Regions from separate parts of the Homo sapiens genome. Here region 2 is reported to be linked to region 1. The links are microRNA targets in miRTarBase. Many come from high-throughput screens and were not tested one by one. Region 1 holds a microRNA gene; the other region holds the end of a gene's coding sequence. Distances are between the middles of the regions.

The links. Region 1 holds the annotated microRNA hsa-miR-4735-5p (CCUAAUUUGAACACCUUCGGUA, at 4,729-4,750, shown strand). A microRNA usually pairs through its seed, bases 2 to 8, with sites in the 3' UTR of a target mRNA and lowers its output. Matches are read on the target gene's strand: a 7mer-m8 pairs with bases 2 to 8, a 7mer-A1 pairs with bases 2 to 7 and ends in A, and an 8mer does both.
Region 2: the mRNA of NSL1 is a reported target of hsa-miR-4735-5p. Seed matches in the 3' UTR shown: 7mer-m8 at 3,066-3,072, 8mer at 5,303-5,310 and 7mer-m8 at 6,791-6,797.

Annotation. Positions count from the first base shown.
Region 1 is chr1:196,579,935-196,587,202 of GRCh38, reverse strand. MIR4735 (microRNA 4735) reads left to right here and starts at 4,722; the gene lies at 4,722-4,790. The region is part of intron 1 of KCNT2 (potassium sodium-activated channel subfamily T member 2); the gene reads left to right.
Region 2 is chr1:212,732,273-212,739,272 of GRCh38, reverse strand. It overlaps NSL1 (NSL1 component of MIS12 kinetochore complex), which reads left to right. Exons shown (of 6, transcript NM_015471.4): 6 at 587-7,000. The coding sequence ends at 865. Among named protein-coding and RNA genes, the nearest start is that of BATF3, 36 kb to the right of the region's middle. RefSeq lists a silencer at 1,300-1,500.

The DNA.
Region 1 (7,268 bases):
TTAGTCTTTAGAAGTCATCAATATGTTGTTATTCGATTTTTTAGGATTTGGAAAAAATATTTTTGAAAACACATTAAGTGTATAAAGTGTCAGTTCTTGTTAAAATTTTATTCAAATTTTTTCCATGATTCGAATATTTTCTATATTTCAGTAAGTTGCTTTGAGGAAAGTAGAATCATCACAGCAGAAGTTTATTGCTCTTCATGTTTCATAAACTCAGTCCATTTGAATGATATTATGCTAATTGAGTTTTAGAGAGTCAAGCTTCACGTCAAATATTTTTTCTCTCATACTTGTGGAAAGCAAGAGTTCTGTTCTCCTATTAGCACTTATTAAATATTGTGATTATTATTCAATGTGGACACATTTTATCAATAAAATAAGAGCTCAGGGGAGGAACACGAAGAATATATAGTTTGTAATGGTAAGATATGGTGGAAGAGATTGTAAATTGTACTACTTACAGTTGTTGTTGTTGTTTTTTTTAATCCTCTTGATTTTAATGTTAGTAGCCTCTAAATTATTTGCCTCTGACTATTTCTTTCTACTTGTCTTCCTGAAAACTCATGTTTCATAGTAGAAAATGTGGTTTGATATTGGGTTTTCCAATAGCAGAGTAAGAAAGTGACTCAATGATAAATCAGGTACTCTTATTAATGATAACAGAAACGAATAATAATACAGGTAAGAATTCTTATTATTCTAGCAGCAGGAGATGTCTAGATTATCAATTGACTAGTGTCAAACAAATTTTCCCCAAAATGATTGAATTCTTAATAATATTACTGATAGTTTTAAAACTTTAAATCAAGAGTTTAAAAACCCCATGAGATTTTTAAATAAAACAACAAAATGGGGAATTTAGCAGCAAGAAAAGAAGTGAAGGGCTTGATTAATCTGCTAATTATATGCATATTAATTAATTAATTTCCTTATTTTGAAACAGAGTCTCACTCTATTACCCAGGTTGGAGTGTAGCAGCAGAATCTCAGCTCAATGCAATCTGTGCCACTGGGGCTGAAGTGATCCTCCTGTCTCAGCCTCCCAAGTAGCTGGGACCACAGGCACTTGCCACTACGCCTGGATAATTTTTTGTATTTTTTTAAATAGAGATGGGGTTTTGCCATGTTGCGCAGGCTGGTCTCAAACTCCTGAGTTCAAGGAGCTCAAGATATCTGCCACTTTGGCCTCCCAAAGTTCTGGGATTATAGACATGAGTCATCATGCTTGGCCTGCTAATTATATAATTAAGAGTTCAATAGAGTTGAGATTTATGTGCATTTAATAAAAAAAGTTTCATTTATGTTTATTGCCTCTATAAAATGTAACTGATGGGCTATAAAAACTAAAGTACTTGAAAGTATGAGTGTATCTAAAGTTTTAAATCCTGTACTTCTAGATGAGCTATTCCATTTTCAGTCTATGAATTGCTAAGACTATGTCCAAGGAATTACACTGACAAACCTAATGGATGAGTGAGTGAATGTCCTTTTCTTTTTTGATTACAAGAAAAAAATACTCTAAAATAATCCCATTCTCTTTCTTGCTCTGTTATTTGTGAGTCATCAAATTCGTTTTGTGATCTCTATAATGTTTTTTTTTAATTAGTTAGCTTCCTCTTGGCTGTAATAAATAGCTCAGTTATTTCCACTAAATTGACCCATCCATTCCATTTATTTGGGCAATTGAATTATCGACTGAGTGGAATGACAAAGAGAATTCATTAGTATTAATTGTTTAGATAAATATGTGTGGTCCAATAATCAAAATATAAATTAAATATATGTGTAGAAAACCTTTAGAGGAAACGTTTCTTTTCCTCTCTTCACAGTTTATTTACTCACTACCAGTTACTTGATGTGTAAGTCAAGTCCCATCCTCTCTTTGAAGAGATAATTTGTGTAAAGTGTTTGACACAGAACAGGATTGCATAGTATCTTAAGGTTATAGCTAGTTTTTAATTTTCTGATCTTCCTTTTGCCTCTTCCTCACTACTGAGCTTTCTTCCTAGTCTCAGTTTTTGCGCTTATTATTTCATTTTTATAACTACTCCCTTGAGTTGTCATTTTTTAAATATCTGCAGTTTCTCCAACTAGACTCCAAGTCTCTTCTACATCGTATTGTACTCATACTTGAAAATAATAAATGCTTGGCAAATACTGAATGATAAGCCTCTTCTGCCTGTGAATGGTCCTTGTTCTGAGCAGAACACATGTGTGCTGACTCTTTTTCATGGGACCCACGCCTACTGGAAGCACCCTCTCCATTCGGAGTTCATCTTTGCAAACCCCACCCCCAAACAAACAAACAAAATGTTTTGTTTGGAACCCTGGGCAAAGTCTCCTGAATATTAGACTGGGTGATAAATCATGAATCATATTTGTACTTGGGTAAAATTTAACCCAAATTCCATTTGGAATCTTCAAGCTAATTAACTTCCTCCTGAGTCCCAAGGTTCTTTTTCTAGCAAAGCTTATATATTTACTATTAAAATAAAATCTGATATAAAAGTTGACAGGAATTTTCTCTTGACAACATTATTTCTAGTTACTACAATGTTTGACAATATACTTTTCTGAAAATATGTTCATTCATCTGTACTCTTTCTGTCTCATCCTCATACTCTGTTGATTTAATGGTCCAGGCATGCCCCTCTCTGCTAATCTTTTCTTCTAAGCCTCTTGGAATACGTGCACCCTTACAAATAAATTTTCCAGCACCTTCAGTTTTTTCAAGGAGAGTTCATCCATTTGTTAATTTGAATAGGAAACAAACTGTAACATTAGAATCTTTTTAATAAAAGCTGCTCATTTTCATACTGCTCCCCATATATCACAGGTTTGGAAATGTGTTACCCCTCTTCTTACAAATTATACACCATTACATTTCCCCTTATTTGAGGCGTATGTTATTTATTACAGCCTTTGCTTTTTTCTTGTCACTGTGTTTTGTCAACCTTTGGTGATTCCTCCACAATTATGGAGGGTTTGGGCGGGAGCTTCTATTCTTTTTATTTTATTTTATTTTATTTTATCTTAATTCCAGATGCTAGTATCATTGTTTTCGCATTCTTTGCCCAGGTAATACCCTGTTCCAGACCCTGCCTTTATAGTTCCTTTAGTTTGGTGACTTTTATATCCAATTCTGCCTGGCACCCTCTTGTTAGGCTGGACCTGAGTATGACCAAGATTGCTCTACTTCTGGAAACTTACGTGGCAACATCCCACCATGTAACTCTAACTTGTCCTTTCAGTGTTCACACTTCCTTACTAACACCAAACTGATTCATTTTTACATATCATCAAGACCTTCAGTACCCTATATATTTCCATGCTTTCCACCCATTTTTAACCTGAACTTTTCTTTCCTGGCTCTTATTTACTCTTCTATCTTGTGCATTCTTTCTTCTGCCCTATGGCTCTACTTACGTTTCTCTTAAAATTTCTGATGATCTTTTTCATGCCAGGTCCAATGAACAATTTTTTTTTTCTGATTCTCCTCCTCTTTCTTGAAACTTCCTTCTCTTGATTTCTATGATATCATTCTTCTTTGTTTTATGTCCTACTCATCTTATCCTAGTTCTCCTTTACAGTCTTCCCTTCTTTTATTTAGCACTAAAAATTATGTTTTATCAAGGATTCTTCCTTGGTTCTTTGCTCTTTTCATTTCTAGTTTGCTTTGTTTAAACTTCAATAAATGTAATTATATGTTGATGATTTCCAAATCATGATATTTGTCTTACTTCTCTGTGCAGAGCTCTAAAACTATATAGACTGCTTTCCACTGGGTGTCTTTTCATGTTCAGCAGACATTTCAATCCACAGTGTCCAAAATTAATTTTGTCATCTCTTTGAAACTATTTACCCTCTGGTATTTTTTGTGTTTAAATATGGTACCAACATGCAACCAGCCACCCAAGGCTGGATTATTAAATTCTTTTTAAAGCTTGGTTCACTACAGATCTCATTGATTCAATTCATAGATGGCTCAAATTGTTGTCCTCATGAGTCCATTTTAATTATTACGCTTCTAATTAATGTGCCTGCCTTTCTCATCTGAACTCTTGAGAGGTGTTTTAATTTTTCTGCCTCAGGTCTTCCTTCTGGCTGCCATTGGACAATTCCTCTCTCTGGAATGAATAACAACCTCTGAAGACATCCCACTCCACCTCTACATGTCACATGATATTCACCTATTTTTTGACCAGTTATCACTTACATAATCTTTATCTCAGCATTTTAGGAAGGCTTTTTCGCTATGCAAATCTCTGTATTTTATAATCCTGTATAATTATATTTTATAATCCTGTATAATTATATTTTATAATCCTATGCAATCTGTATTATCTTCTGTATTTTATGCTTTTCAAACCTTTATTGTACTCTATTTGTTCTACTTTATTTAGTTTGGACAAGCTGAAGCAGGTGACATGGTTCATCTGTATCCTTGCCTGATGCATCACTGAAATGTAAATGAATTGGTGGTGAGAGAATAATTCAAAGGACTCAGTGTTTGAACCAAGCCTAGTCAATGCTGTCAATGCTGCTGTATCTTGGGTGTTTGTGGAGGCACTAAGGTAGTGGCCAGGACTGAAGAAATTGGGAACTTGACCTTATAAGGCAGCTACAAAACTTGCCCTCTATCATTCTAACCAACCCTTCCAAACTTCTAAAAATCTCAGCTCCACTTCTGCAAGTTTATCTTCCCTGCTTGCATAAAATTGCAGTGCCTAATTTGAACACCTTCGGTATTCATCAAAAATACCAAAGGTGCTCAAATTAGACATTGCATTTTTTGCGCATGTCAAGTTGAAATCTATTCATGGATCTTTAGCTCCTTAAGAGAACATGCATATAACATTACTTTTTACTAGCATTCTTCCAAGTACTTTACATGCCCAACGAGAAAGCATAATATTATCCCCATTGTACAGCTGAAGAAACAGGCATAGAGAAGTTAAGTAATCCGTTGGTGATTACAAAGCTAGAAAATGGCAGAGCCAGGAACTTGAACCCTGTTTTTCTTGGCCATTAGGCTTGCTGGAAGGGGATACTAAGATGTAGGAAGGGAAGGTGGAGATGAGGGTCTTTGTTGATTTTCCTAAAAAAGTTGGCGTTGTACTGGCATATGGAGAGAAGTTGATAAGTAAATATTAAATACATACATGTTGGTTTTGAAATATATGATAAGACTTTTTAAAGTCTACCTGAAGAACTGGCAGTATTATTGGTTCTCCCACAGAATTTTCTTATGAAAGACATAATTTTCCTGAAATGTGAACATAGAGGCATTTGTGATGCCTATTATCCAGCTGTCATCTGTCTATTCATGTTGTACACATCTACTATAATTTAAATAGGAGAACAACAAAATGAAAGACTTAGTTTTCAAAACATAAGTAATGGAAGAAAGTGAATTTGATATATTTTTATGACAGCTTTTAGTAAATACTTTTAAAATGAACTGAAGTTAATTTATGCTTGAGTGGGATTTCTTTCTCTTTTTGGAAAGTTTTTATAAATAAATGAAAGAAAATATGTTCTTACTAATAACAGTTTCCCCTCCATCTTTCCCCCATCTCCTTAGGATACTTGTGGAATGTCTCTAGAGTGAGTCGGCCACTGAGAGGACTTTGTATTGTGTTAACTTCATTATATTGAAATTTTGGAATAGCCTCAGGGAATAAGGGACAGAAAAAAATGGGGCAATATTCACCCGGTGGCATTCATTTTCAGTAAAGAGCAAGTAAAACCCTTTATTAAATTTAATGTTTTATTTTTGCTTAGTTTGGAATATACATGTGTATTTCACATATATAAAAATAGAACTTTTTTTACTAAACTGGTCCAGATCTAGATATTTATAGGCATATGGAATTTGGAGGTTACAAAATTAACTTCTAAGAATAAATATTTCCTACTCCTCAAGTATCATGTAAGAATAATTTTTCTATGACAATAAAAAAAGCGAAACACTACAATCTGACCCATATTTTCTTGCCACAGATTAGCATTTATGTGATCTTATTCTAAGCCTATGTGGTACAGAAAGGTAAAAATGCTAAAAGAATGACTATATCACATATATACTAATATTTCAATGTTTAATTTTCTGAAAAAAAAACTGTACGTTTTGTAAATAGCTGTAGCAGCTATAGTCAAGATGATTTCTTGAGAAGAAATTACCTGTTCTTTAAAAAATGTTCTTGCCAAAATAATGATTGTACATAGCTCAAAAATCAGCTATTATTAGAAGGCTTACAAGAAAACAAGAACAAGTAAAACAACAATAACAAAAACCATCTGGCCCCTGCCTTCACCTTGTCAGCTTTTCCATGATGTACTTTTCAGAAAGAAACACTTTGAAGCCTTTTGAGTGTTTTTCCCTGCTTTTATTCTCTATAGTCAGTTTCACAGTTTCTCAATTTGAGGGAGTATTCATTGACTTCCTACTATGAAATATAAGGATTTAGCAGTCTAACTATACCATCACAACACACATCTCACTCCCCATTCTTCCAATACAGTAATTATTTTTGTTTAGAGCAATACCATGTATGCATATTATATGACTATTTCAGTTTTGCTCAGAACTGAGTAATGAGTATTATGATTATCATTTTCTTATTCAACTGTCTTTGTTTCTAAGTATATACACATTTTCATTTTGTTGTCTGCTAAGTTTTCTAGTTACCTATTGATAGTGTTTCACCAAGCACTGTGGTAGAACTATAAAGCCTTTCTCAGGGTAATCAAACACATCAGACAGTGTACCTGTGGGGAAGGTCCAGGTTATGCTGTGGAAAGAAACACTCTCAGATCCTCCGTGGTTCTCTTCTGTGGAGTTACTCAGGAACTCCCTCCCCTCCCACTGAACCATCTTCAAGCTTCATTCTGTACCCACATTTCTGTGGGATTGTTTATCACTTTTTTCTCTGTTGAGCTGGGGCTTCCATTCTATTATTTCTTCCATTTAGTATTTCTGGAGCTGGGACTTCCATTCATAATAAATCCATTATCTTAGGAATGCTCTTCACTTTCTTTACTTGAGTGTCCTATTTGCTGGATTTGTTTATTCTTTTGTATTGGTGAAGCACATTTTCCAGAAGCTTCCCTAGAAATGGTTTCAGGAGGAAAAGTTTTGAGCTTGTGCATGTCTGAAAATCTTTTTATTCTACCTTTCCACATGAATGGAAACATTTCTAGGTTGGAAAATTATTTTCTGTCAGAATGTGGAAGCCATTTTTCCATTCTTTTATCTTTCCATGT
Region 2 (7,000 bases), 16 Mb from region 1:
ACAGTTTTGGATAATAATACCAGCTAAAATGTATTGAATAATTGGTATGGGCACCATCCAACTGCTTTACATGTATTGTCTCATGTAATCCTTACATCCTATGAGACAGATACTGTTATTTCTTTTGTAGATGAGGAAGCTGAGGCACAGAGAGGCTAAGCAGGTTGCGCACATAAGTAACCTACAATCCAGCATTTAAAGCCTGGATCAGCAAGGGCACAGTGGCTTACACCTGTAATCCAAGCACTTTGGGAGGCCAAGGCAGTCAGATCACCTGAGGTCAGGAGTTCAAGACCAGCCTGGCCAACATGGTGAAAGTCCACGTCTACTAAAAATACAAAAATTAGCCAAGTGTGGTGGTGCGCGCCTGTAGTCCCAACTACTCGGGAGGCTGAGGCAGGTGAATTGCTTGAACCCAGGAGGTGGAGATTGCAGTGAGCTGAGATCACACCACTGCCCTCCAGCCTGGGCAACAAAGCAAGACTTCTCAAGAAAAAAAAAAAAAATTAGAGTACTGCATCCATCTTTGTCTGTTTGTGTTTCAACCTGAGATTAATGTTGAATATTACTGTTTGTTTGTTTGAAGTCCTTGCCTGCATTAATTGAACAAGGAGAGGGATTTTCCCAAGTTCTCAGGATGCAGCCTGTTATCCACCTCCAGAGGATTCACCAAGAAGTCTTTTCCAGTTGTCATAGGAAACCAGATGCTAAACCTGAGAACTTTATAACACAGATAGAAACCACACCAACAGAGACTGCTTCCAGGAAAACCTCTGACATGGTACTGAAAAGAAAGCAAACTAAAGACTGCCCCCAGAGAAAATGGTATCCATTGCGGCCAAAGAAAATTAATCTTGATACATGAGCTCTTTCTGTTTATTTTGGGAGTTGAAAATAGGCACCATCAACATTTAGATTACAGCCTAATTAATACCTAGATAAGACTTCATTTGAAATAAGAAATAACTCTTTTACTAGTGATTCATTTATACAGATATAGTATCTCTGTGCGGGGATATGATATAATATTGTATTTCCTTACTGTTTTATCTATTGTAAATAAAAAGCATTTTAAAAAGTATTGACACAAAGCCCATCAGTGGGCATTAAAAATATTAAAAGTGCAGACTTTTACTGTCCTTAAGTGCCATCAACTCTCAGCTCCCTTGTAGCTTTTGTGGGATTTAACAAGTAACAAATTCTGTTGTGTTTCCCTGGTATACATCTTTCTAGGAAAAAAAAAAAAAAGAGAGAGAGCTGTATAATGATTTTTCGTTTACATGCTGAAAAGTAATTATCAGTTCTGCACAGCAGCAGATGCAGGGTTTTTTTTTAAAGATGTAGTTTGATTTATCAAATTAATGTGCTGATGATAATACTGGCTTTGACTTTGTTACTCCATGTTCAGCTAATTTAGGTTTGTGAGATTAACTTTAGGATTTTTTGTTGTGTAAGACAATGATAACTATTATTTGTGCAACATTACTCTTTGAAATAAAAATTGGCATGTAGCCAATGTTTCCTGCCCACACTCACTTTTTTCTATAGACCATTAACATAATTTGACTTGGAACTAATGGTTTCTTTTTAGGGTTTCTTATTTATTTCTTTACAAATCATTCCAGTTCAAAATATATATCAGATTAATACACTGGCAAAGTGTCATTGTGTTATTGAACTATTTCACATTTGAAGATGTTTATATATCAGGTATATAATCACTGGGAGAAGTCTGAGAAAACGATATTGGCTTTACTTCTAACATTTAACTATAGTTTCTTATAGCTCTTATTGTGTGTCTTACATTATACAGTGTAGGCAGGGCCATCAAACTTACCAACTGTTTCCCCTTTTGATGACTCTGATACCTTCATTCATTTTTCAAAGGAATTTACTGATCATGAGGTTGGAAAATCTGTATTTCTCTTGCTTATTATGTATTAATAATCATAAATGTCTAGATTCACCAGAAGTCACCAGAAGGTCTGTCTCAGTGAAGAAAACTTATAAAGCCACTTTGTTGCATTTTGTGTTTCAGTGTTACAGTTTGAGATCTGTATATTTGTACACAGCTATGTGTTTTTCATTGAAATAATGTACAAAGACTGATCTTGATGCTGTGTATTTTTATGAGTTGTCTTAGGCATTCCTGAGCTCAGCTTCAGTTGGATGGTGGGTCAGCACCCTGCGTTTCTGAACATACTAGACTTCAGTTTAAAACTGTTTTGAGGCTGTATAATATGTTGCTGTTTTTACAGTGCTAATGTTTTTATAGTATTAAAATTCTGTATGATTTGTTTCACTTCAGAGGTCCCCAAACAAAAGAGTTATTGTTAATTCTATTAGATTATATAAGCTACTTGCATTTTGATTATATAAGAACATGGTCCCTCCCTTTTAAGAGAGGTATATTGTGCTACATAGAGTTTTTAAATGACATGATAGATTTGCTCTGAAGTATTCAGCAGAGAAACAAGGAATCGATTAAGGAAATGTGACAAAAATCCTGTTAATGTTGAATCTGTGTAATGACTATATTCTACTTTGTGTTGGAAATTTTTATAAGTTTTTAAAAAATGGTTATATTTTAAAGTCCCCAGGCAGACAGCTGAGATTTGAAATCCTCTTGAGAGCCCAAAGTTTTACTCCATAGTTATAGCAGAGTTTAAAATAGAAATACCACTGGGAAAGACAGTACGTATTAGCATTATTAACTAAGAAAAGCATGACCAATAGCAGTAATAATATTGAATAAGTATACTGTGTAAGAGGAGAAGTTGCATTTCTGCATAGGCCAAGAACTAGTAAGCTAAGGATTAAAAGCAAGAAAGTCTGTAGTTTTAAGGAATTGGAAAGGTTGAAGGAAAAAATTGAAAATCAAATCTTGCTCTATGATAAAAAGAGTCTGGATTGAATAGGGTCTTAAAATTATCTTTCAGAAAAGAAATAGCCAGGCGCGGTGGGCTCATGCCTGTAATCCCAGCACTTTGGGAGGCTGAAGTGGACAGATTACTTGAGCCCAGCCTGGGCAACATAGTGAAACTCCATTTCTACAAAAAATACAAAAATTAGCAGGGTGTGATGGCACACACCTGTAGTCCCAGCCACCCAGGAGGCTGAAATGAGAGGATCACTTGAGCCCTGGAGGCAGAAGTTGCAGTGAGCCAGGATGGCACCACTGTACTCCAGCCTGGGTGACAGAGTGAGACCCTGTTTCAAAATAATAATAAGAAGAACACAAGAAGGTTAAGTCTAGTCCCAAAGAAGAGAGAACACTGTCAAAGCTGGTTTCTGAAAACTGGTACCAAAATCTACATTTGTTTATTTAGGCTACTATAACAGAATACCACAGGCTGGGTGGCTTAAACAACAGATACTTACTTCTCACAGTTCTGGAGGCTAGAAGTCCATGAGAAGGTGCTGGCAAATGCAGTTTCTGGTGAGGGCTGTCTTCCCGACTTGTAGATGACCACCTCCTTACTATGTCCTCACATGGCCTTTCCTCAGTGCATGCATGTGGAGAGAGGGACAGAGTGCAAGCTCTCTGGTGTCTCTTCTTATAAGGACACCAATTGTATCAGATCAGAGCCCCACCCTTATGGCCTCATTTAACCTTAATTATTTCCTTAGAGGCCCCATCTCCAAATACAGCTATAGGCACATGGGAGTTAAGGCTTCATCATACAGATTTTAGGGGGACACAAACATTGAGTCCATAACACAAGCCCACAGAAAATCTTATCCTAGACCTCTTTCCCTGGCCCTTTATGGCTTGGGCTCCGTAGAGGACAAAGTGAATAAAACCAAATTTTTTATTGCTTCAAACAGTATGATTTCATCTTGTAAGATGTACTTTTTCTTTTCTAAGGCTGAATTTGTTTGATTTCTGGTGAACACCTATCTTCTCTATCCACCTTCATTCATTTATTCATCTGTTCAACACATACAGTTGGACACCTACTCGGATCAAAAGTCAGAGATCTTAAGAGCACAGCCTCTAAGCCAGATCATCTGAGTTCAGATTTCAGTTCTACCATTATTAGTTCAATGATATTGGACAAGTTACTTAACCTGTCTATGATCAAAAGTCAGAGATCTTAAAGAGCATAGTCTCTGAGCCAGATCATCTGGGTTCAGATTGCAGTTCTACCATTATTAGTTCAGTGACATTGGGCAAGTTACATAACCTGTCTATGCTGCAGTTTTCTCATGTGCAAAATGGGGATAATAATTATGCCTACCTCATAGCGTTATTCTGAGAAGTAAATGAGTTCATAATGTGAAGGCCTTAGACTAATAACTGGTGCATATGAGTACTCTATGATCACTGTTATTACTTCTTTTGATAAAGGAAATGAAAACACTCAGGACAAGTGTTGCCTTCAGGAAGGTCATATTCCAGTGAAGAGGATGAGTGTGCAAACAATGATAATGCCATGCAGCAAATGGTATGATAGATGTATGTGTGGAACTTAGGGGAGTAGTCATGGAAGTCTTTGTAGAAGAGGTGGCATTTGAGCAGTCTTGAATGTTTTAGGCAAATAATCAGGGAAGGAATACAGGAATAAAGAACAAATTACTGTTATAACAATGTGGATCAATATCAAAGATACTATATTGAATAAAAGAAGCAAAGCCAGGCACAAGAGAATACATCCTGTGTATGGAATCACAGAATGGGCAAAACTAAGCCATGGTGGTTCCCTCTGGGGAGAGGGGAGATATTAACTGGGAATGGCACGGGAAACATTTTTGGGTGAGCAAAATGTTCTGTATCTTGATCTGAGTGGTGCTCACATGGCTGTATATGTATGTAAAATTTTGTTGAACTATACACTTAAAATTTCTGCACTTTATTTAAGTTTTATATTTTAAAAATGCACAAAACTGATTCACCAAATATTTGAGGAGCGTCTCCAGCATCAAAGACAGACCCAAAAACTGTAAGTCCCTTAATGGCAGGAATCTTTGTTCCATCCACCTGGAATAATTGCTGGCACATGATGGGCCCTCGATGCATAGTGGTTAACTGAGTGAATTAAAACAAAAACCAAAGAGAATAAAGGACCTCAAAGAAAACAGATACATACAAAGCAAAATCCCAGAATGATGACTGTACTCCCAGAAAGAAGAGAAAATCATACATTTTTTGGAAAATCGGAATGCTATTAAATAATGTTCAGTAAATAAGAAAAAGTTTTTGAAAATTAAAAATATGAAAGTTGAAATAAAAATTCAGTGGGAGGGCTGGGAGATAAAATGAAATTTTCCCAAAAATAAAACAGAAAGATTAAGAAATGGCAAATTAGAAAAGTAAGAATAAAGAGAATAAGTTCATAAAGTTCAAAGTCTAATCGATACCCATTCCAGAGATAGCATGCAGAAAAAGCAGCAGAGTCAAAATTATCAAAGAGATAATGCAGTTACCATATGGCCCAGCAATTTTACTCCACGTTCTAAACCTAAGAGAATTGAAAACATGCTCACACAATAACTTACACACAAATGTTTGTAGCAGCAGGTTGAACTTTCATGAACTGATGAATGGATAAATAAAATGTGGACTATCCACTCAATAGAATATTATTTGGCAATAAGAAGAAATGAGGTACTGGTAAATGCCACAGTGTAGATGAACCTTAAAACATGCCAAGTGAAAGAAGCCTCTCACAAAAGACTGCTGAATTTTGTAGACTCCATGTAAATGAACTGTCCAGAACAGGCAAATCTACAGAAACAAAAAATAGATCTGTCACTGCCTAAGGCTGGAAAGATGGAGAGGGTGGAAGGAATAGGAAGTGACTGCTAATGGGTATGGGATTTTTTTTTTTTTTTTTTTGTGAAACAAGGTCTTGCTGTGTTGCCCAAGCTGGAGTACAGTGGTGCTATCTTGGCTTACTGCAACCTCTGCCCCCGCAACTCAAGCCATCCTCCCACCTTAGCCTCCCAAGTAGGTGGGACTATAGGCATGCACCATCATGCCCAGCTAATTTTTGTATTTTTTGTAGAGACGGAGTTTCGCTATGTGGCTGGTCTCAAACTCGTGAGCTCAAGCGATCCGCCCACCTCTGCCTCCCAAAGTGCTGGATTACAGGCGTGAGCCACTGCGCCTGGCCTGGGATGTCTTTTGAGGGTGATGAAAACCCTCTAAATTTGATTATGGTGATTCACGACTGCTTGTTGAATATACTGAAAACCATTGAACAATACAGTTTAAAAGGGTGAGTGAGATGGTAAAGTATATCTCAATTTAAAAAGAGAATAAAGAAATAGAAATAACACAAGAAACATTCCCAGACCTGAGGAATACCAAGAGGAATTGGAATGGCATCAGATTACTAAACAACAATCCTAAAATCTAGAAGCATCTGGAGAAATATTCTCAGCATAAATGATATACAACCTAGGCTTTTATACACAGTCAAACTAATAATCAAGTGCATGATTAGCTAAAAGATATCTCAGATATGCAAAGCGTCAAAAAAAATTACCTCCAAGGCATCCCGTTTGGGGGTTCTACCAGGGGCTGTGCTCTATTCCAAAGGGTAAACCAAAAAAGCAGCAGCCATGGGATCTGGGAAACTAAGGCTCCCAAAACACAGCACACTCGAGTCTACAGGCTACTAACTAATCAGCAGATTTGGAGACTAGGCAGACCAGGTTGGAATAAGACTATGTAGGCCGGGTGCGGTGGCTCACACCTGTAATCCCAGCACCTTGGGAGGCCGAGACAGGCAGATCACCTGAGGCTGGGAATTGGAGACCAGCCTGACCAACAACTAAAAATACAAAATTAGCTGGGCGTGGTGGCGCATGCCTGTAATCCCAGCTACTCAGGAGGCTGAGGCTGGAGAATCGCTTGAACCCAGGAGGCAGAGGTTGCAGTGAGCCAAGATCACGCCATCGCACTCCAGCCTGGGCAACAAGAACGAAACTTCATCTCAAAAAAAAAAAAAGGACTATGTAGGACTCCAAAAGAGATATTTTCAGAAAAAAATAA